Regions from separate parts of the Homo sapiens genome. Here all the other regions are reported to be linked to region 2. Evidence: microRNA targets listed by miRTarBase, many of them from high-throughput screens and not tested one by one. Region 2 holds a microRNA gene; each other region holds the end of a gene's coding sequence.

Region 1 (4,151 bases), not on the chromosome of region 2:
GGGTTCCTTGGGGAAAGACCAGATTCAGGTTTGGGGCAAGGAGAGTCCAAATGTGAATCTGAGATACCGTGTTGTACTAGAAGCAAGAAAATGCTCAATGTCAAATAAAACCACAGCAAAAGGGCAAAAGAGCTTGCCTGAGGGGACTCCTACTGGCCAAAATTGGGGACAATTTGAACATCAAGATAATGATCATTTGTACACCAAACCCCCATGACATGCAATTTACCTATGCAACAATCCTGCACATGTACCCCTAAACCTAAAAAGTTAAAAAAAAGATAAAATGATAATGGATTATATATAGCTCACTGAATAAGAAGAATCTATTGAGACCTCAAAAATAAAGAGGGTAAAAAGAGTAAGCTCTTCTTTACAGAGAAATGCAGGCTAATATAGGTAAGATGAACATAAAGAATTGCCAGTTTGCAGTCCCCAACATGTAATGTTCAACAAGGCAAAAACAATGGATGCCAAAATATGTGAAGAGTTTTTGGAGAGCCATATAATCATAAAGTATTACCCCACAGACTATGAATTACAAAGGGGAAAATACACACACACACACACACACACACACACACACACACATTGGTGGTGAGATCTGGCCATCCACCACCTTAACCAAATGATCAAGCTTATTATCAATAGTGGGTCAACCTTGGCTGGGCGCGGTGGCTCACGCTTGTAATCCCAACATTTTGACAGGCCGAGGTGGGCGGATCACCTGAGGTCAAGAGTTTGAGACCAGCCTGGCCAACATGGTGAAACCCCATCTATAGGCGTGGTGGCACATGCCTATAGTCCCAGCTACTCAGGAGGCTGAGGCATCAGAATCACTTGAACCCGGGAGGCAGAGGTTACAGTGAGCCGAGATTGCACCACTGCACTCTAGTCTGGATGATACAGTAAGACTCCATCTCAAAAAACAAAAACATAAACAAAAACATGAGCCTTGTAATGTGGTGCAGTTAAGTACATATCTACATAGGGCTCTTGTCAAAAATGTTTAAGATTCATTCCTCATGAATCTACTCATGAGGAAATGGCAAATACAAATTATGGAATCTTATCTAAGACAACTGGAGTAAATTATTCAACGAAATCAATGTCATGAAAGACAAAGGAATGCAGGAGGTCTGTTGTAAAAGAAGATACTTAAGAGAAACATAACACATGAACTTCTATTTGATCCTGGATCAAAAATGAAATTAAAAAGCTGTTAAGATTTTGGATATTGAGAAGTGAATACAGGCTGAGTATCCCTTATCCAAAATGTTTGGGACCAGACATGTTCCAGATTTCAGACTTTTTCAGATTTTGGCATCTTTGCATTATACTTATAGGTTAAGCATCCCAAATCCAAGAAATCCGAAATCTAAGCTCTTCCAATAAGCATTTCCTTTGAGCACCATGTTGGTACTCAAAAAGTTTCAAGTTTTGGAGCATTACAGATTTCAGGTTTTCATACTTGGGATGCTCAACTTGTATAAACTATATAAGATTAAGAAATTGTTAAATTTTGGCCAGGTCCAGTGGTTCACACCTGTAATCCCAGCACTTTGGGAGGCCGAGGCAGGTGGATCATCTGAGGTCAGGAGTTTGACCAGGCTGGCCAACATGGCGAAACCCCGTCTCTACTAAAAATACAAAAAAATTAGCCAGGCATGGTGGCAGGCACCTGTAATCCCAGCTACTCAGGAGGCTGAGGCAGGAAAATCACTTGAACCTAGGAGGCAGAGGTTACAGTGAGCTGAGATCACACCATTGCACTCCAGCCTGGGCTACAAGAACAAAACTCCGTCTCAAAAAAAAAAAAGAAAAGAAAGAAATTGTTAATTTTTTGTTGTTGTTTTTGAGACAGAGTCTTGCACTGTCGCCCAGGCTGGAGTGCAGTGGCGCAATCTCAGCTCACTGCAAGCTCCGCCTCCTGGGTTCACACTATTCTCCTGCCTCAGCCTCCCGAGTAGCTGGGACTACAGGCGCCCGCTACCACACCAGGCTGATTTTTGGTACTTTCAGTAGAGACGGGGTTTCACCGTGTTAGCCGGGATGGTCTCGATCTCCTGACTTCGTGATCTGCCCGCCTCGTCCTCCCAAAGTGCTGGGATTACAGGCGTGAGCCACCGCGCCTGGCCAGAAATTGTTAATTTTCTTAGTGTGATAAAGATATTGTGGTTACAGAGAACATCCTTATTAGGAGATGCATACATGGTTTAAGAGTTAAGAGTTGCAATGTCTGTGACTAGCTTTCAAATGGTTTAACAAAATCAATCTATATTGAGAAAGATAATTGTGACAAAATGTTAATTCCTGGTGAATTTTGGTAAAGGTTCTATGCATGGTCACCAAACATTTCTTTCAGCTTTTCTATGGGTTTGAAATTTTTACAAGTTAAAAGTAAAATAAATAATAGAGATCCTTTGACCATAATTTAAACTGAATTAGCATTGTCAGGATTAGAGCTCAAGAACCTTTATTTTTCACAAGGTCATCCAGATGATTCTAACACACATCTAGAGAATCGCTGGTCTTTGGTTTCTGCTACCTCCTGTAGTCAGAGAAAAGTGAGAGGAAGAAATGTTGTAATTCTCTCAGTAGAATTAGCTCAGCTGGTGGCCAAGAGTCTTTCCCTGATGGTTCCACAAGCCAATTATCTCAGACACGGTCCGAATGGCCTCGGAGTCTTAAGACTGGATTTCCTATGGAGGAATCAAAGTACTAATCCTCCTTTGGGGGCCTTGGCTGCTGTAAGAAACCAATACTTGACCCTCCCAGGAATAGAAGCTTCAGGGCACTGAAAGAGCTAAAAGGACTGGAGTGGAGGCAAGCCAAGGTGCTGTCTGAATGGTAAGAGGAAACCTACCAGGTGAAGGATCTAGTGTTTTGCCAAGAAATTCAATTTAATACCAAACAGGGGATTTACCTGGGCAGAACAGGCAATTTGTTAATATTTAGTGACTGTTACACACCTGAGTTGGATGTCATTACTAACAACCCCTGCCATAGGCTTATGCACTGCACCCCCTGCCCCCAAAAGCAGACAATTGGTTTAATGTCTATTCTAAGAAACCTGAGGAAAATGAAGCCAGACTGATTATGGGACAATTTAAATAAATACAAGAAACTGAAGAGCAGAAAAAGGTCTCCATACAGCTACTGTGAATTACTTTTATTGAAAAAAAATGTTCACTAAAAAGGCTGAATACATCCCTCTACATGAATACACAGCTCAGAAGAGGGGAAATGGAGGTGGGGAGGCATCCAAGTCATAAAGGGTAGAAAATGAATGCAAGCTTCTTAGAACTCTTCCCAGGAACACAGGCAATGCTTGCAGTTTCCTGGGTACCCAATGGGCAGGGAAGATCAGGAAGAGATCCATGGGACATAAGGAAGTTAGGTTACTGCGCATAGCTCCCAGGAGATTGTCCCCTCCATTTCTCCCACTCATTCTTTTGGCTGTGGGAGTGTTCCCTCTAAGCTGATCCACTACCAGCAGCTGGAACACTCCCCTAAAAAGCTAGCTTGGCTTCCTGGGCAGCCAGTTCTTCAGGAGCAAGGCTGTTAAGTTCTTGAAGCTGTCACTGCTGCAGGCCCCCCCTTAGCGCACAGAGGACAATCCTCACCAACACGCCACCAACCACTCCAATGGCAATTCCTATTCCCAAGGCTGACGCCACCTTCTTTTTCCACTTTGGGTGGTGAGGCTTGGAGTAGCTGTCCAGATTAACTTCCAATCCCTCATCTATTAACTTCTGATCCTCAGTAAGTGACTGATGGAAATTCAGATTCACCAAGTTAGGAGGAAGGACCCTCAACCCAAAATAGAGCCTCTTGACGAGTCTCAAGTTTTTTACCAGCTGCACATCACAGCGATATGTCCCAGAGTCATACTCCTGAGCATATTTAAACTTCACAAAGTGGGAGTTGGCTTGAAAGGGTTTGAAGACCTCATCGTCAGTGGAGATGACACCTCGAGCAAGTCTCCAGGTGAACCGGAAAGCTTCCTGTCCAAACTCCAAGATGTCTGAACTCAGACAGCTAAGCTCAAATTCCTTGCCAATGAGAATGGTGAAATGGAGCATCCCACAGATCCAGTTGGTCAGACATTCTAAGCGCCGAGTCTGACATTTCCTTCTCACTCCATCAGG
Region 2 (4,151 bases):
GAATGATCCATATGCTGAGGAAAAAATGCATATTCTGCAACTACTGGATGAAATGTCTTGTAAACATCAATTAGGTACATTTGTTCTATATTATAGATTAAGTCCAATTTTTTGGTTGATTTTCTGTCTGGATGATCTGTCCAATGCTAAAAGCGGGGTGAAGTCTCCAGCTATTATTGTATGGGGATCTCTCTCTCTCCTTAGTTCTAATAATATTTGCTGTATATATCTGGGTGTCCCAGTGTTGGGCGCATATAAATTCACAATTGTTATATCTTTTTGCTTTATTATTATATAATTACTTTGTCTCTTTTTGTACTTTTTGTCTTGAAATCTATTTTGTCTGATATAAGTGTAGCTAGTTCTGTTCTTTTTTTGGTTTCCATTTGCATAGAATATTTTTCCTTCCTTTTATTTTCAGTCTATGTGTCCCTTTATAGGTGAAGTATATTCTTGTAGGCAACAGATTATTGAGTCTTGTTTTTTTCGTCCATTCAGCCACTCTATGTCTTTTGATTGGAGAGTTTAGTCCATTTACACCCAGCATTATTATTGATAAGTCAGGAATTACTCCTGCTGTTTTGTTGTTTGTTTTCTGGTTGTTTCATGGTCTTCTCTTCCTTCTTTCTTTCCTTCCTGTGTTCCTTTTAGTGAAGGTAATTTCTTCTGGTGGCATGATTTAATTTATTGGTTTTTATTTTTGGTGTATCTGTTATATGTTTTTTTATTTGAGGTTACCATGAGACTTATATGTGCCATGAGATTTGGAAAGGTGCCCAGCCAAAAGTTTTTTTATATATTTATATATATATGTATATACGTATATACATTTATATATATACGTATATACGTATATACATTTATATATATACGTATATACGTATATACATGTATATACGTATATACGTATATACATGTATATACGTATATACGTATATACATGTATATACGTACGTATATACATGTATATACGTATATACGTATATACATGTATATACGTATATATGTTTATATATGTATATATTTGTATATACTTGTATATTTATATATTTATATATGTATATATATTTATATATGTATATTTATATATGTATATATTTATATATGTATATTTATATATGTATATTTATATATGTGTATATATATTTATATATGTATATGTATATTTATATATGTATATATGTATATTTATATATGTATATATTTATATATGTATATTTATATATGTATATATTTATATATGTATATTTATATATGTATTTATATATGTATATTTATATATGTATATATTTATATATGTATATTTATATATGTATTTATATATGTATATTTATATATGTATATATTTATATATGTAAATATATTATATATGTATATATATGTATATAGATTTATATATGTGTATATATGTATATATGTATATAGATTTATATATGTGTATATATATTTATATATGTATATATATGTGCATATATATTTATGTATATGTATTTTGTTTGTTTGTTTTTGAGATGGAGTTTCACTCTGTCACCAAGGCTGGAGTGCACTGGTGCAATCTTGGCTCACCACCTCTGCCTCCCAGTTCAAGCAATTCTCCTGCCTTAGCCTCCTGAGTACCTGGGATTACAGGCATGTGTCACCACACCCAGCTAATTTTTGTGTTTTTAGTACAGATGGGGTTTCGCTATATTGGCCAGGCTGGTCTCGAACTCCTGACCTTAAGCGATCCACCCACCTTGGCCTCCCAAAGTGCTGGGATTACAGGTGTGAGCCACCAAGCCTGGCCTAAAATATGTTTTGAAATATACTTTCAGTGGGTAAAAAACATTTTAATGTAGCATTTTTTTTCCTTTTGGTTTTAAAAAATGTCTTTTGTCTTGTGTTTCCTACAAGAAATCTGTATTGTTTTCGTTGTTTCTTGGCCTGTCATTAATCTCTTTTCCTCTGATACTCTTAAGATATTCTCTTTGTTGCTGGTTTTCAGCAATTTGACTGTGATATAACTTTTAATTTCTTCCTGTTTCTTGTGCTTTGTTTTGTTGAGCTTCTTGGATCTGTGGTTTTATGTTTTTCCTCATATTTGAAAAACTTTTAGACATTATTTCTTAAAGTATTTTCCCCCTGCCTCTGCTCCTACAGGGCCTCTGCTTACACATATGTAAGGCCGATGGAACTTCTGCTGAAGCTCACTGATGCCCTTTTCTTTTCGTTTCTTTATCTTTTTTTTCCTGTGTTTCACTTCATGTAGTTTCTGTTGCTGTGTGTTCAAATCCATTAATCTTTTCTTCGGCAATGCCTCATCTTCCATTGATCTAATCCAATGTATTTTTCTTCTCAGACATTACACTTTTTGTCTGTAGATGTTTGACAAGGATCTTTTGCTATCTTCCATGTCTCTGCCTTAACATCTTAATCTTTCCTCTAGCGACTTGAACACGCGGAATAAAGGTGATCAACGGGTTTAATGTCCTTTTCTACTAATTCTGTCATGTCTGTCGCTCCCCGGTAAGCTCTGGGTGGTTTTCTTCCCATTGCAGGAATTGTTTCCTTGCTTCCTCGCATGCCTGGTAATATGGATGCACGCAGTGTGCGTTTCATCTTGTTTGGTGATGTATATTTTTGTGTTCCTAAAAATATTGTTTAGTTTTTTCCTGGGAAACAGTTACATTCCTTGGAAAAACTCGATCCTTCTGAATCCTGTGCTTGGGCTCCAGTAAGTGGGACCAGGGCAGGGGTTGATCCACGAGGAAGGTTTTTTCTCCGCTACTGAGGCCAGACTCTTCTGAATACGCCAGTCAATACCTTGTGAATTGAGCTTTTCTAACTCACACGGTATTGACTGGAGTACTCCAAAGAGTCATCATGCCAAGATAATTGACGTTTGGGCTGGGCGTGGTGGCTCACGCCTGTAGTCCCATCACTTTGGGAGGCTGAGGTAGGTGGATCAGGATCACTTGAGCCCAGGAGTTTGAGACCAGCCTGGGCAACATGGTGCAACTCTGTCTCTACAAAAAATATAAAAATTAGCCACATGGGGTGGCATGTGCCTGTGGTCCCAGCTACTTGGGAGGCTGAGGTGAGAGGATCACCTGTGCCTGGGAAGGTCATAGCTGCGGTAAGCCAAGGTCGCACCCCTGTACTCCAGCCTTGGTGACAGTGAGACCCTGTCTCTGAGGCCAGGCTCTACTGAGTACTCCAGTCAATACCTGGTGAATTAGGGCTGGGGGCGGTGGCTCATGCCTGTAATCCCAGCACTTTGGGAGGCTGAGATGGGTGGATCACTTGAGGCCAAGAGTTTGAGACCAGCCTGGTCAACATGGTGAAACCCTGTCTCTACTAAAAATACAAAAATTAGCCAGGCATGGTAGCATGCACCTGTACTCCCAGCTACTCAGGAGGTTGAGGCAGGAGAATTGCTTGAACCCGGGAGGAAGACATTGCAGTGAGTCAAGATCGCGCCACTGCACTCCAGCCTTAGCAATAGAGTAAGACCTTGTCTCAAAAACAAACGAACAAAAACAAAAACAAAACAAAACAAATAACAACAAAAAAACCTGGTGAATTAGAAGCTTTTCTGCTCTGGCTAATTAGAACCGGCACTATTGCTGTGGGAACACCATTCCTTCCAATCCTATTGGGTTGTTCTTATTTGGACCTTTTCCTGTAATCCAGTCCTTTTTCTGACACACATGCCGACCAGCCATCAGCCACATATCCTGAAGCCCAGTTTCCACACAGTTCACTCCTCCAGTGCTTTCTCAGACCTCAGCCACCTTGGCCTCCCTGGTCTCCAGCTCCATCTCCTCGCCCCAGGGAGACGACCAGGTCCAGCCTCAGGTGGGCACCATTGCCCGGACAGTCTTCCCAGGTAAGCGATTGTAGGCTTGCCGCATTTGGCTCCTGCCTTTTGAGGTTCACCTTCTTTCCTTGGCTGAGCTTCAGGATCTTTAGGGCTGTGATTTCATACATTTTGTCTAGTCTATTGTTGGTTGTGTTGTCATGTCAAATGGGAGGACGAATCCCGTTCCTGTTGCTTCATTTTGTCCAGAAGTGAAAGTTCCTAGAACAAGGCTAAAGATTAATGAGCTCATTAACCAGCTCTAAAGGTATGAAATGAAATATGAAAATAGACCAATGAATGTACAAAGAAA
Region 3 (4,151 bases), not on the chromosome of region 2:
GAGTTTCTTCAGACACCCAGTAAAGCTTGTTTAATCCTAAACAGGTCCCACTAAGAATTCCTTCATTATCTCATCATGCTTCAAGGCCCAGCAAAGGCCTAGGCAAACTCTTGGTGGGCTTTTGTTACATTCCAGCCTTTGTATAAGGCCACCAGCTCTCTCAGCTTTTAATGTTTAACTTAACCACTCAGTCAGTATTGAAACAGTTGTTATGGATGCCTGCATTAGTGATACCTGGCCTGCCACAATGGGACCTATAGGAAAAGTTTCCTAAAATCTCAAAAAAATTCTCCTTGATGTAAAAGGGAATCCTGGCAGTTACAGCTCTCAGACAAGTCTTCTGTCTATGAGTCTCACTCTGAACTGAGTACACTCATTTTTCTAAGAAAACGAGTTTTTAAAATTATTTCTCTTCTCTTTTCCCCATTTCCCCTTGTTCCCCACTTCCTACTTAGCCCTTTAGAAATGCAACTATACGGCACTACTCACAATAGCAAAGACTTGGAACCAACCCAAATGTCCAACAATGATAGACTGGATTAAGAAAATGTGGCACATATACACCATGGAATATTATGCAGCCATACAAAATGATGAGTTCATGTCCTTTGTAGGGACATGGATGAAGCGGGAAACCATCATTCTCAGCAAACTATCGCAAGGACAAAAAACCAAACACCGCATGTTCTCACTCATAGGTGGGAATTGAGCAATGAGAACACTTGGACGCAGGAAGGGGAACATCACACACCGGGGCCTGTTGTGGGGTGGGGGAGGGGGGAGGGATAGCATTAGGAGATATACCTAATGTAAATGACGAGTTAAGGGTGCAGCACACCAACATGGCACATGTATACATATGTAACAAACCTGCACGTTGTGCACATGTACCCTAGAACTTAAAGTATAATAAATAAATAAACAAATAAACATATATATAAAAGAAATGCAACTATAACCTTTTACCTCCCCTTTACCAGACACTCCCTCCAGGGCAGGCTCATCTAACTGTGTGCTTAGAAGCTCTAGAGCAGAACTTGCACCCACCAGGAAACTGCCTGGAGACACAACAGTCAATTAATAACCCAAAATATGCCCACTATGAAACTCCCTCCCACCCGGAGAGCTTCAGCCACTTTACAACCTAGTTCTGCCCACGAAGATGCCAACTTGACCACCCGTTACATAAGTCATCAAAGCAAGTATGTGGACTCCCCCACCTGCCCGCTTCCTCTCCTGCATGCCATTCGTGCCAGCACCCCCCCCCCCGCCCCTTTAAAAGTGCCCACTTTCTGCTCCAAAAACGACACAGTACCCTTCAAGGCAGCTTCTTCCCCTAAACTAGCTTTGGAATAAAAAGTCAGTTTCTTTATACCAGGCCTCCCTTTTGTTCACTGGAGTCTGCAAGCAGTGAGTGACTGCACCTGCATTTTTGTTACATGGAGAGAGAGATTGAGAGAAAGAGAATCTTCCATCATTAGAGGCTGTATTCCCACCCCCAAGAGCATCTCATGTAAGTGGAGTTCCTGGCCACACACAGAACCAAGCAAAGTATGTGTGGGCTTAGCTCCAGCCCCAGCTCTTAGGAAAATCTTCATGTCCCATGACAGGCCGTCCCATTAGATTCCCACAGGTATTCCCAACAGGCCCAGGGCCAGGTTACCAACATGCTGTCTTCCCTTCATTTTAAAAGTAATGAGGTAAGGAAGTCTTTGGAGATGGAAATTTCTCAAGGTACACCAGAGCCACCCAGTGCCTCCCAGCAGCGTCACACCACAGGTGTGGTTAATAAAACCTGAAATAATGAGGGAAAAGAGAACAGTGCAAAGATGTATTCTGCACTTTTCCACTGTTTTCAGCTGTTTTCAATGCCTCCGCCCCTGAGAGTGGGTGGAGGCCCATGGGATGGGAAGCTTCCTGTGTGAGAACACACATGGAAGGCAGGAAGACAGGACAGTACTGCTAAGCTTCATTTCTGCCGTCAAAATCCTTGCCAGACTCTACGTCCCTGGCCTCCTAGGGATCTAAAAAACCCTGAAATGTTCTGATACATTCTAGGATAAAAGCAGAAAATGCAAGTCTCCTCACCAAACCAAAAACATTTGCTCAGATGACAGGCAAATGCAATTCATTAAATTGTTCAACACTTAAAACATTTACTGTCAGCCTCTTGGGCATTTTTGGATGGCTGCCTGTCTAGCAGGCCTTTAACCTGGTTCAATCAGAATCAACAAAGAGCTAGATGGTCGCAGGGAAGCCCCTGCTGGGGTCACAATCAGGTGAGAAGCAGCTCACTGGGCTAGAATTACCCAAAGTCACTCTTAAGCCGCCTATGACAAGCCCAAGGCCCGGGATGACTCGCAGGCCCAACCTCACCCCAGGGCGTAAGGAGGGGCCGGACTAACTACACCTGCCACAGAGGCAAGATGGGAAAGTGGCTTCCTCAGCCTGGTGGGGTATGGAAATACATAAGTGAGTAGATTCGGGGCTTTCCAGAGCCAGACTCCCCAGGAGAGGCTCAGAACAGGGATGTGGAATGGATGTTAGGCCTGGGGGGCAGATGACAGTGGAAAGAGGTTCCACTGGGGAAGGGCAGGGGAGGGGGGTGTCTGCCAGAAAACTTGCTGGCATGAGGCTGGGCCCTCAGGGCCTCGGTCGTCTGGATCTGCCCCAGCACGTGGCTGCAGGCTGGGCTCCCCTGCAAGAGCTGGGATGCTGCCTCTTCAGCCTTTGCCTTACCAGGCCTGCCTTGCCTGTGCATTTGAGGTCATGGCCTTAGCTCTAACTCTTTCTGGTCACACAGTTGTTAACCTGCCACTGGCCCCAGCCAAGGCAGAGCCACTCCTACCTAAAGTGTCCAGAGCCTGAGCCCCAGACTTCCCTCTCCACTGCCGGGACTTCATTTCACTGGCTGTTCCCCCAGGGGCCAACACCTTCCCTGCTTCCACAAGTCCTGGCCCGTGCTGTGCCCACTCGCCCCTCCAGCCTTGTGATGTGGCCCACAATTGCAGCCTGTGCAGTTTCAGAGACTCGGCAGCATCTGCACACTGGTAGCACTTTACGCTCCACATGCATCTCCATTTAGGGTGTTTCAATGGCAAAGCATTGTCTAGTCCTCTTCAGAACTAGCCAGAACTCCAACTTCTAGAGAAGGCTTTTAGTGATGCAAATCTCAAATTCCCCTTGTCTTTTGATAAGCTGGGCCGATCAGAAGGTTCCCACAGGACCAACAGACACGTGCTGCAGCTTTTGCAGGGCAGAAGCACGATGTCCCTGAACACGTTTGTTACACTCACCTCCAATCAGGCCCATAACAAATGGACTGGATTCGATGACCAACTCAGGCTGCGGGTTTCAGGAGGGCTTGCCCAGCAGCTCACAGATGGGCAACTATCGTCTCGAGCGGGCTGCAGCTTGCAGGGCTGTGCTACCCTTTTTCTTCCTAACTCTTTGTCTCAACATTGTCTGCAACTGGTTTTGCTGCTGTCACATTTCATTTCGTTCATCACAAACCTAGTTACTGGAAAATTCTCTGTGATTAAAAAAGTACAAGATAATAAAACCTTAGAAAAATAAGTAATTCTTTTATTTCTACTTCAAAATATACCATGTACATCTGGAACTCTAAGGGGGAAAGTAACCAGGAGAATAGTCCATCAAAAAAATAAGATAAATAATAATTGCCCATTTCAGATCCATCTTTAATCCAGCTGAAAAGGGTATGAGCTGCCAGTTGTCTTGCTGTCAGGGGCCACCCCTCTGTCAGTGGCCTTGCGGCTGCCTCCCAAGGACTCTGAGTCTAAGAGTTCCTGGAGCGTCTTGAGGACGTGCTTTGGCTGGCTGGCGGCAAAGTCCAGCAGGCGGGAGCCCATGTGCTCCTGGAGGCTCCTGGACAGCCGGCACACCACCCCGCGGATGTTCCCGCTGGGTCCAGGCAGGGTGCCATTCCTGGTGGCGGTGTTCAGGAAGTGCCAGAGGATGGGAAGGACATGCCGCTCTACAGCTTGAGGCTTCCGGGGGTAAACTGAGGCCACCAGCACTGTCAGGCAGAAAAGGAGAGTCACTTGAGCCAGGCACTCTCTCCCTCTCCCACTTCCCTCTCTTGGGACACCAACTTTGTCCCCCAAAGGGCTGGCAGCCCAGCAGGCACA
Region 4 (4,000 bases), not on the chromosome of region 2:
GCCTCGCTCGACGGCAGTGCCAACCGCCCAGGGACCGCCCCGAGCTCACAGGACTTTCTCCCCCAGCAGGTTACGGGCAGGACTTGAGTGGCTTCGGACAGGGCTTCTCAGACCCCAGCCAGCAGCCTCCTTCCTACGGGGGTCCCTCCGTGCCAGGGTCGGGGGGCCCCCCCGCCGGCGGCAGCGGCTTTGGACGAGGGCAGAACCACAACGTGCAAGGGTTCCACCCCTACCGACGCTAGCCCGCGGCGCCGCGACGTCTGCACGGCCCAGACCCAGGATTCCAAACTTGTGAACTCGTGACAATCACAAACTTGGCGGCAAAGTGGCGACTCAACCTTGGGGGGGGGGGCGGGGGGAGGGCGCGAGGCTTTTGGAGCGGCTGTGGGTGTCGTCTGGACTGAGGTTTTTAAATATTTCTTTCTCTAACCCATCAGCACAATAAAAAAAAGTCACTGGTTCAACAACAGGGTTTAAAAAAAATGTCTTCAGCTTTAATTCAAAACTTCAGGTTTCTTTTTCTTCCTTTTTTTTGGAAATTATTTTCCTGAGCCTTTTGTTTTACGGTATATTGTAAACTTTTATGTTAAAGAAAAAATATACATTTACAAATTGTGAGATTTTTAAGAGAAATTTTCTACGATGTATACTGGCTTATTTTTTAATTTAAAACGGGGTTTCCGTCGGCACTGGTGGAGGGGGTGCGCTGTTAGTCCCCTCGCTCCTGGCTTTGGGGGTTGGGACTTGGTGGTCCAGAAACTCTGGGAGCTTCTAGAAGAAATCTACTGAGTGTATTTCTGTTTTTTGTTTAATTCCTTGCTTTTGTCGACTGACCTGCTTGGTAGTGTCTGAGGTGAACTGTGGGGGTTGCGCACAGCCAGCCGCGTGGATCCCACGCAGCGCTGAACCGAACCGAGTAGGAAGCCTTTCTCCCCAGGCACGTGGCTTCAGGGCGTTTCCCATTGACCAGTTTGACCCTGGTTTGAATAAAGAGAAGTGCGTTTGGATTAGAAACCACTTTGTGTCCGTTTTTTCCCTCCTTGGTCTTGGCCTGTGCCTACCCTTCCAGTGCCTAGGAAAGGTCTGAAACGCGACGGAGGCGCCCTCGCCCTCCCCTTGGCTCTTGGTGGTCTCAGCAACCCCGAGGGCTTCAGGGCAGAGGCTGAGTGGCGAGCTGGGCCCATCCCTCAGTGGGTCTTGGGATGCTGTGACTTTGAGGATGTGGCCACCACCAGTTTTCTCGGGGAATGTGGGCTCCAGGCTTTTCCCATCTCAAGACCTTTAATCATATCTTTTGCCATGGAAGGTGACATATCCCCAGGTTCTGGGGATTAGGACAGGGGCATCTTTGGAAAGGGATACTCTGTCACTGTGGCAGGGAAGGCGAGACTTAAAAAGGGCCGGGCGCGGTGGCTCACGACTGTAATCCCAGCACTTTGGGAGGCCGAGGCGGGCGGATCACCTGAGGTCGGGAGTTCGAGACCAGCCTGACCAACATGGAGAAACCCCGTCTCTACTAAAAATACAAAAATTAACCGGGTGTGGTGGTGCATGCCTGTAATCCCAGCTACTTGGGAGGCTGAGGCAGAAGAATCGCTTGAACCTGGGAGGCGGAGCTTGCAGTGAGCCGAGATTGCGCCATTGCACTCCAGCCTGGGCAACAAGAGCGAAACTCCGTCTCAAAAAACAAAACAAGAAAAAAAAAGGACCATGAAGTCCCAAACTGGAAGCCTACAGCGTGCCAGGCGTGAGACTGTTCAGGCGACAGCCAGAACCACCCCCCCCCGCCCCAGTTCATATTTTGGGGACAGGGAAGGTTTGACTTAGTTTGGAGAGAACCAAGAGAAGGGGTACCCCCAACATCCCTGTGCAGTGCAGTTTCCTCACTGAGACAGTACCCCTCAACGCCTCAGCCCAGGAAGCCAGCTCCATTCCCTGCCGTCAGAGCCTTCTCCCATGTCCTCAGGAGCTGCTGCCCCAGCTCCCAGGAGGGCCAGGCGGGGGCGGCTGTCTATCCACACCACAGGTCATCATGGTGTTGAGTGTCAGCCCCTCCCGTTACATTAGCTCCCCCAGCCAAAGAGCAGCACTCACAAAATCAGCTTTCCAGCCAGGACACTCTGCTGCAGGAAAATGGGTAACATGGACGGGCCCGACACATAGGTCCTGTGCTCCTCGGGACGGAGACTCAGCCCTCCCTGAGTACAGTGTAATTGGCTTCCCTTGGGACTGTGGGGACGGCTGGGGAGAGCTCAGCTCCCTGGACAGTGCCACAGCTAAGCTCGGGTTCCCAGAGGTTTTGTGCTTTTTTTTTTTCTTTTTCTTTTTTTTTTTTTTTTTTTTTTTTGAGAAGGAGTCTCTGTCGCCCAGGCTGGAGTGCAGTGGTGCGATCTCAGCTCACTGCAACCTCCGCCTCCCGGGTTCAAGCGGTTCTCCTGCCTCAGCCTCCCAAGGAGCTGGGATTACAGGCACCCACCACCACGCCTGGCTAATTTTTTGTATTTTTAGTAGAGTTAGGGTTGGTCAGCTTGGTCTTGAACTCTTGACCTCAGGTGATCCGCCCGCCTCGGCCTCCCAAAGTGCTGGAATTACAAGCATAAGCCACCACGCCCAGCCAGGTGCCACATCCATAGTTAATAGTCACCTTCAACTTTATACTTAATTCCAGTAAGATACAGAAACATCACTCCTAGGCCAGGCGCGGTGGCTCACGCCTGTAATCCCAGCACTTTGGGAGGCCAAAGCGGGTGGATCACCTGAGGTCAGGAGTTCGAGACCAACATGGCCTGGCCAACATGGAGAAACCGTGTCTTTACTAAAAATACAAAATTAGCCGGGCACGGTAACAGGTGCCTGTAATCCCAGCTACTTGGGAGGCTGAGGCAGGAGAATCGCTTGAACCCAGGAGGCAGAGGTTGCAGTGAGCCGAGATCACACCACTGCACTCCAGCCAGGGCAACAAGAGTGAAACTCTGTCTCAAAAAAAAAAAAAAGTCACTCCTACATAGTTCTAGTTACTCCTTCTCTTTGAGCTATCATTATTCACATTACATTTACATATCTTAACAAACCCAGTGATATTCCTAACTTTATTTTTGAGGCAGGGTCTTGCTCTGTCGCCCAGGCTGGAGTGCCGTTGGCGCGATCACGGCTCACTGCAGCCTTGACCTCCTGGGCTGAAGGCTCAGCCTCCCGAGTAGCTGGGAATTTTTTGTACTTTTTATTCTTTTATGTCCGTGTGTACACAAATTTTTGTATTTTTTTGTAGAGAGGCAGTCTCACTGTGTTGTCCTTACTAACTTTATATACAAAATTTTATCTGTTAAAGCCGGAATGGTTCTTTTCAGCGAGGCCCTGTCCCTGCTCCAGTATCTGTAATGAATTCTCGTGTTCCTCCCACAGTGGGACCTGAACCGCCAAACCGCACCTACGAGCAAACGGTAGGCGCTCCATAAATACTTGTTGATGTGGGTGCCATCGTGTAGATGACGGAGCACGAACCCGAGGCTCAGACAGGGGCGGCGACTTGTCCAAAGTCCCACTCCGTGGAGGAAGCGGCTCTGCAGACCTCAGGCGGCGGCTGCTCTAATCCCTGCAGCCTGTGTTTTGCCCTCCAGACGGCAGAGGGCGCGTGTTCGCCGCCGGGAAAGCGGAAGCGCGTGTGCGCGCACGGCCGAGGGGGCGGGACATGCCGGCAGTCTCGCGATAACTGCGCAGGCGCGGACCAAAGCGATCTCTTCTGAGGATCCGGCAAGATGGTGAGTGTTGCGATTTGGCGCGTCTCTGCCGGGCCTATCCGGCTCCATCCAACCTCTGACCGTCTCGCGGGGGCCGCAGTTCGTCCCCGCGGCTACGGCGGCTTGCTCCCGACCCTGCAGGCGGCTGGATGTTGGGGCGAGGGGCGGACTTGGTGGGTGTCGGGACGACGCGGGGCTGGGAAGGCCTGTCCGGGCCTTCATGTCCGGGTCCTCGTAACCCGGAGCCGCGAGTGATCCCCGGG
Region 5 (4,151 bases), not on the chromosome of region 2:
TTACAATGCAGGGTCCTAGATTCAATCCAAAGACGTACTCTCTGGTCAGGGATTTTAAGTAACAAAAAGAGCAACACTATCTAAAGACCTAAGGTTGTGTTGTGGTGGTGAGTATTATTTAGAGAGAGGCTTAGGCTTAGGCTTTTTGCTCAGCCTGGGTGTATCTAGGAACCTAACTCTGCCTTGGAGATCTATACTTACCCTATTCTTCCCTAAAATAGGAAATAATGAACTTCCTCGATGCCTTTCTATTCTCTCAGCCAGTTTGGTTAAAGTGACTTTGGGCTCAGTTTGTACAACCACTATGAATTTTTAAATAGAATGTAGCAAAAGCACCTAACCTTAGGTGTATATTATAACCTTGAAGTAGCCTTTTCTCACTATCAAACTACAGGCAGAGGAAACATTTAATTTTGATAGTAATTAATCACTTTCTATTTCAGAGGAATTCTTCAGTTGGATAAAGTGGACGTCATACCTGTGACAGCTATCAACTTATATCCAGATGGTCCAGAGAAAAGAGCTGAAAACCTTGAAGATAAAACATGTATTTAAAACGCCATCTCATATCATGGACTCCGAAGTAGCCTGTTGCCTCCAAATTTGCCACTTGAATATAATTTTCTTTAAATCGTTAAGAATCAGTTTATACACTAGAGAAATTGCTAAACTCTAAGACTGCCTGAAAATTGACCTTTACAGTGCCAAGTTAAAGTTTACCTTATTCTCGGCCGGGTGCAGTGGCTCATGCCTGTAATCCCAGGACTTTGGGAGGCCAATGCGGGCGGATCACGAGGTCAGATCAAGACCATCCTGCCAACATGGTGAAACCCTGTCTCTACTAAAAAAAATAAAAAAATTAGCTGGGTGTGGCGGTGCACGCCTGTAGTCCCAGCTACTTGGGAGGCTGAGGCAGGAGAATTGCTTGAACCCGGGAGGCGGAGGCTGCAGTGAGCCAAGATCACGCCACTGCACTCCAGCCTGGGTGACAGAGCGAGACTCTGTTTCAAAAAAAAAAAAGTTGACCTTATTCTCTAAAAGGGCTGGCTATTCATATGATGAATTGTTAAGGAAAACTTAAAGTGGAAGAGAACACATGTGAAGAGACTTTGAAATTATCAAAAGAAAAAAAAAAGACCAGACAAAATCTCATGTGCCAATAACTTTTCAAGGTGCCTTTGTTAAGGAAATTATATCCACTTAATTACTATAATATATAAGACTTTATGAAAAGCACTTTATAAAATTCTAATTTAAAAGGTCAAGAACTTAACACTTATTTTTTTATTCAGTACAGTGTGCCTTTATATTAAGTATGTGACTCAGTATAAAATCACTGAAGTGTATCATGATTTGATTGTATCCTGTACCAAGACTACTTACCTTGAATGCTCCAAGATTTAAAAGTAGTATGACATGTTCTCACTCTAAAATAAACTTTTTTTTTTTTTTTTTGAGGAAAAAAGTATAGCTGTTTTGGTTACACTGATATAAAACCTTTGCCCAGGTAAGAATGGCTGAGATGCAGGAGTAGGTATACTTTCATTTACACTGGCTGAAACCATGGCTCAAATTGAATGAGTCCATTGATGTCATGAATTAGACTGTGCCCTTGGTCTTGTGGTTCTAGATATAGTGCTGTTTACCCTAAAAGTGTTTTATTACCTTTTTTAACCATCACTCATATTGACATATTAATATTTTACAATGTGAACGAGTACATATAACTCATCTCTATGTGATACTTTTTTGAGATGGAGTCTGGCTCTGTCGCCTAGGCTGGAGTGCAGTGGCGCAATCTCGGCTCACTGCAAGCTCCGTCTCCCGAGTTCATGCCATTCTCCTGCCTCAGCCTCCCGAGTAGCTGGGACTACAGGCGCCCGCTACTATGCCCGGCTAATTTTTTGTATTTTTAGTAGAGATGGGGTTTCACCATGTTAGCCAGGATGGTCTCGATCTCCTGACCTTGTGATCTGCCTGCCTTGGCCTCCCAAAGTGCTGGGATTACAGGCATGAGCCACCGCGCCTGGCCCTCTATGTGATACTTTCTGTTGTTTCATTAAAAAATATTTTTACTGGCCGGGCACAGTGGCTCATGCCTGTAATCCCAGCACTTTGGGAGGCCGAGGTGGGCAGATCACGAGGTCAGGAGATCGAGACCATCCTGGCCAACACGGTGAAACCTCGTCTCTACTAAAAAAAAAAAAAATACAAAAAATTAGCCGGGCGTGGTGGGGGGCACCTGTAGGCCCAGCTACTCGGGAGGCTGAGGCAGGAGAATTGGTGTGAACCCGGGAGACAGAGCTTGCAGTGAGCCGAGATCACACCACTGCACTCCAGCCTGGGCGACAGAGCAAGGCTCTGTCTCAAAAAAAAAAAAAAAAATATATATATATATATATACTGCAACCCATCATTTTGAAAACACTATCCAAGAAAGTAATGGTTGTTTTTTGTTTGTTTGTTTTTTTGAGATGGAGTTTCACTCGTGTTGCCTAGGCTGGAGTACAATGGTGTGATCTTAGCTCACTGCAACCTCCACCTCCCAAGTTCAAGCAATTCTGCCTCAGCCTCCTGAGTAGCTGGGATTACAGACTCCCACCACCATGCCCGGCTAATTTTTGTATTTTTAGTAGAGATGGGGTTTCACTGTGTTGGGCAGGCTGGTCTCAAACTCCTGACCTCAGGTAATCCACCCACCTAGACCTCCCAAAATGCTGGAATTACAGGCGTGAGCCACCATGCCCGGCCATGGTTGGTTTTTTTGAGACCACTTTATATTTAGGCCAAATAGGTATGTGTGTGATGGGGGTGGAGAGGATGACAAGTAGAATGAAGGAGTGATGTTTCACTTTGCCAGACTTTAAATTAATTACATTGCATGGAGCTCTATTATGCAATACTCTCTCCATACTGCTGAAAAAAATAATCTGCAACTTACAATTTGATCCTTGAGTTACCAACCAGTAACACTTGTTCTTTACACCCTTTCTCATTCCCTAAGTCATTAGAAAGCACCAGTTCTAACTCCAAATGATGACATGGTCTTATTTTATCTATTAACCATAAGCTTACAGATTCTAGTGAAGAAAAAACTTTAGGAGGCTACATGGTCTATTGGAGAGTGTAGGCTCTGCAGTCAGAAGATCCCTACCCAGGCTTCTGTCTTTCTCAGTAAGACTTGGGACCACAGCAAGGTCCGCAATCTCCTGAGGCTCTGTTTTCTATGGTTGGGATAACATGGTAAGTTATTTTCTTCTAAGTAGTCACACATGGAAATCTTATCTAAAATTTTATACCATTAACTTTTATTTCACTTATTAACTCATACCATTAATACTTTACTTTAGCTATGTTTGGTATGCATGAGTTAATGAGTGATTAGAGTACTATGAGCAGCACAGGTTTAGAAATGCCTATTTGCCTATAGTGCAGCCTCTTACATAGGCAAAATAAAAGTCAAGTAAGAATTTTATTTTATTTTTTTAAAATGCAAAGTAAAATGTGTCTTTAAAACTCTCCCAGGAGGTGAAGGGAAGCTACCATAACACCAGGTGGGAAGGAAGACATACTGGGCTTGGCTCATGCTTTAATTAGCTACTGTGTAAAAATGTTCAGGGATTTTCAGTTATCCGCTGGCACCCAGAGGCAATGGGTAAGGTTAACTGGAGCTAGAGCCAATATTTTTTTCTTCCTAGAAGGAGTAACAGCAGCAAACAGTAGGAGAGAAGATGCCAAGTTAGAAGTGCATATAGCTCTCTTCCACAGGAGGCCTACATGCCGCCACTTGTGCTGCCGCCATGTCTCTAGTGATCCCTGAAAAGTCCCAGCATATTTTGCCGAGTAGTCAACACCAACATTGATGGGTGGCGGAAAATGGCCTTTGCCATCACTGCCGTTAAGGGTGTGGGCCGAAGATATGCTCATGTGGTGTTGAGGAAAGCAGACACTGACCTCACCAAGAGGGCGGGAGAACTCACTGAGGATGAGGTGGAACATGTGATCACCATTATGCAGAATCCACACTAGTACAAGATGCCAGCCTGGTTCTTGAACAGACAGAAGGATGTAAAGGATGGAAAATATAGCCAGGTCCTAGCCAATGGTCTGGACAACAAGCTCTGTGAAGACCTGGAGCGACTGAAAAAGAT

The links. Region 2 holds the annotated microRNA hsa-miR-4457 (UCACAAGGUAUUGACUGGCGUA, at 2,788-2,809, opposite strand). A microRNA usually pairs through its seed, bases 2 to 8, with sites in the 3' UTR of a target mRNA and lowers its output. Matches are read on the target gene's strand: a 7mer-m8 pairs with bases 2 to 8, a 7mer-A1 pairs with bases 2 to 7 and ends in A, and an 8mer does both.
Region 1: miRTarBase lists TMEM81 as a target of hsa-miR-4457. The part of its 3' UTR that is shown has no 7-base or 8-base seed match.
Region 3: miRTarBase lists TOGARAM2 as a target of hsa-miR-4457. The part of its 3' UTR that is shown has no 7-base or 8-base seed match.
Region 4: miRTarBase lists DAZAP1 as a target of hsa-miR-4457. Seed matches in the 3' UTR shown: 7mer-A1 at 289-295.
Region 5: miRTarBase lists GINM1 as a target of hsa-miR-4457. The part of its 3' UTR that is shown has no 7-base or 8-base seed match.

Annotation. Positions count from the first base shown.
Region 1 is chr1:205,079,972-205,084,122 of GRCh38, forward strand. TMEM81 (transmembrane protein 81) reads right to left here. Exons shown (of 1, transcript NM_203376.2): 1 at 3,158-4,151. The coding sequence ends at 3,582. Among named protein-coding and RNA genes, the nearest start is that of TMEM81, 2.4 kb to the right of the region's middle.
Region 2 is chr5:1,306,527-1,310,677 of GRCh38, forward strand. MIR4457 (microRNA 4457) reads right to left here and starts at 2,851; the gene lies at 2,784-2,851.
Region 3 is chr2:29,051,644-29,055,794 of GRCh38, reverse strand. TOGARAM2 (TOG array regulator of axonemal microtubules 2) reads right to left here. Exons shown (of 20, transcript NM_199280.4): 20 at 3,565-4,039. The coding sequence ends at 3,702. Among named protein-coding and RNA genes, the nearest start is that of PCARE, 21 kb to the left of the region's middle. RefSeq lists an enhancer at 2,330-2,840.
Region 4 is chr19:1,434,671-1,438,670 of GRCh38, forward strand. DAZAP1 (DAZ associated protein 1) reads left to right here. Exons shown (of 12, transcript NM_018959.4): 12 at 67-1,014. The coding sequence ends at 242. RPS15 (ribosomal protein S15) reads left to right here and starts at 3,726. Exons shown (of 4, transcript NM_001018.5): 1 at 3,726-3,758. The coding sequence starts at 3,756. RefSeq lists enhancers at 1-94, 3,471-4,000, 3,750-3,969.
Region 5 is chr6:149,590,284-149,594,434 of GRCh38, forward strand. It overlaps GINM1 (glycosylated integral membrane protein 1), which reads left to right. Exons shown (of 8, transcript NM_138785.5): 8 at 444-1,465. The coding sequence ends at 555. It also overlaps the pseudogene RPS18P9. Among named protein-coding and RNA genes, the nearest start is that of GINM1, 26 kb to the left of the region's middle.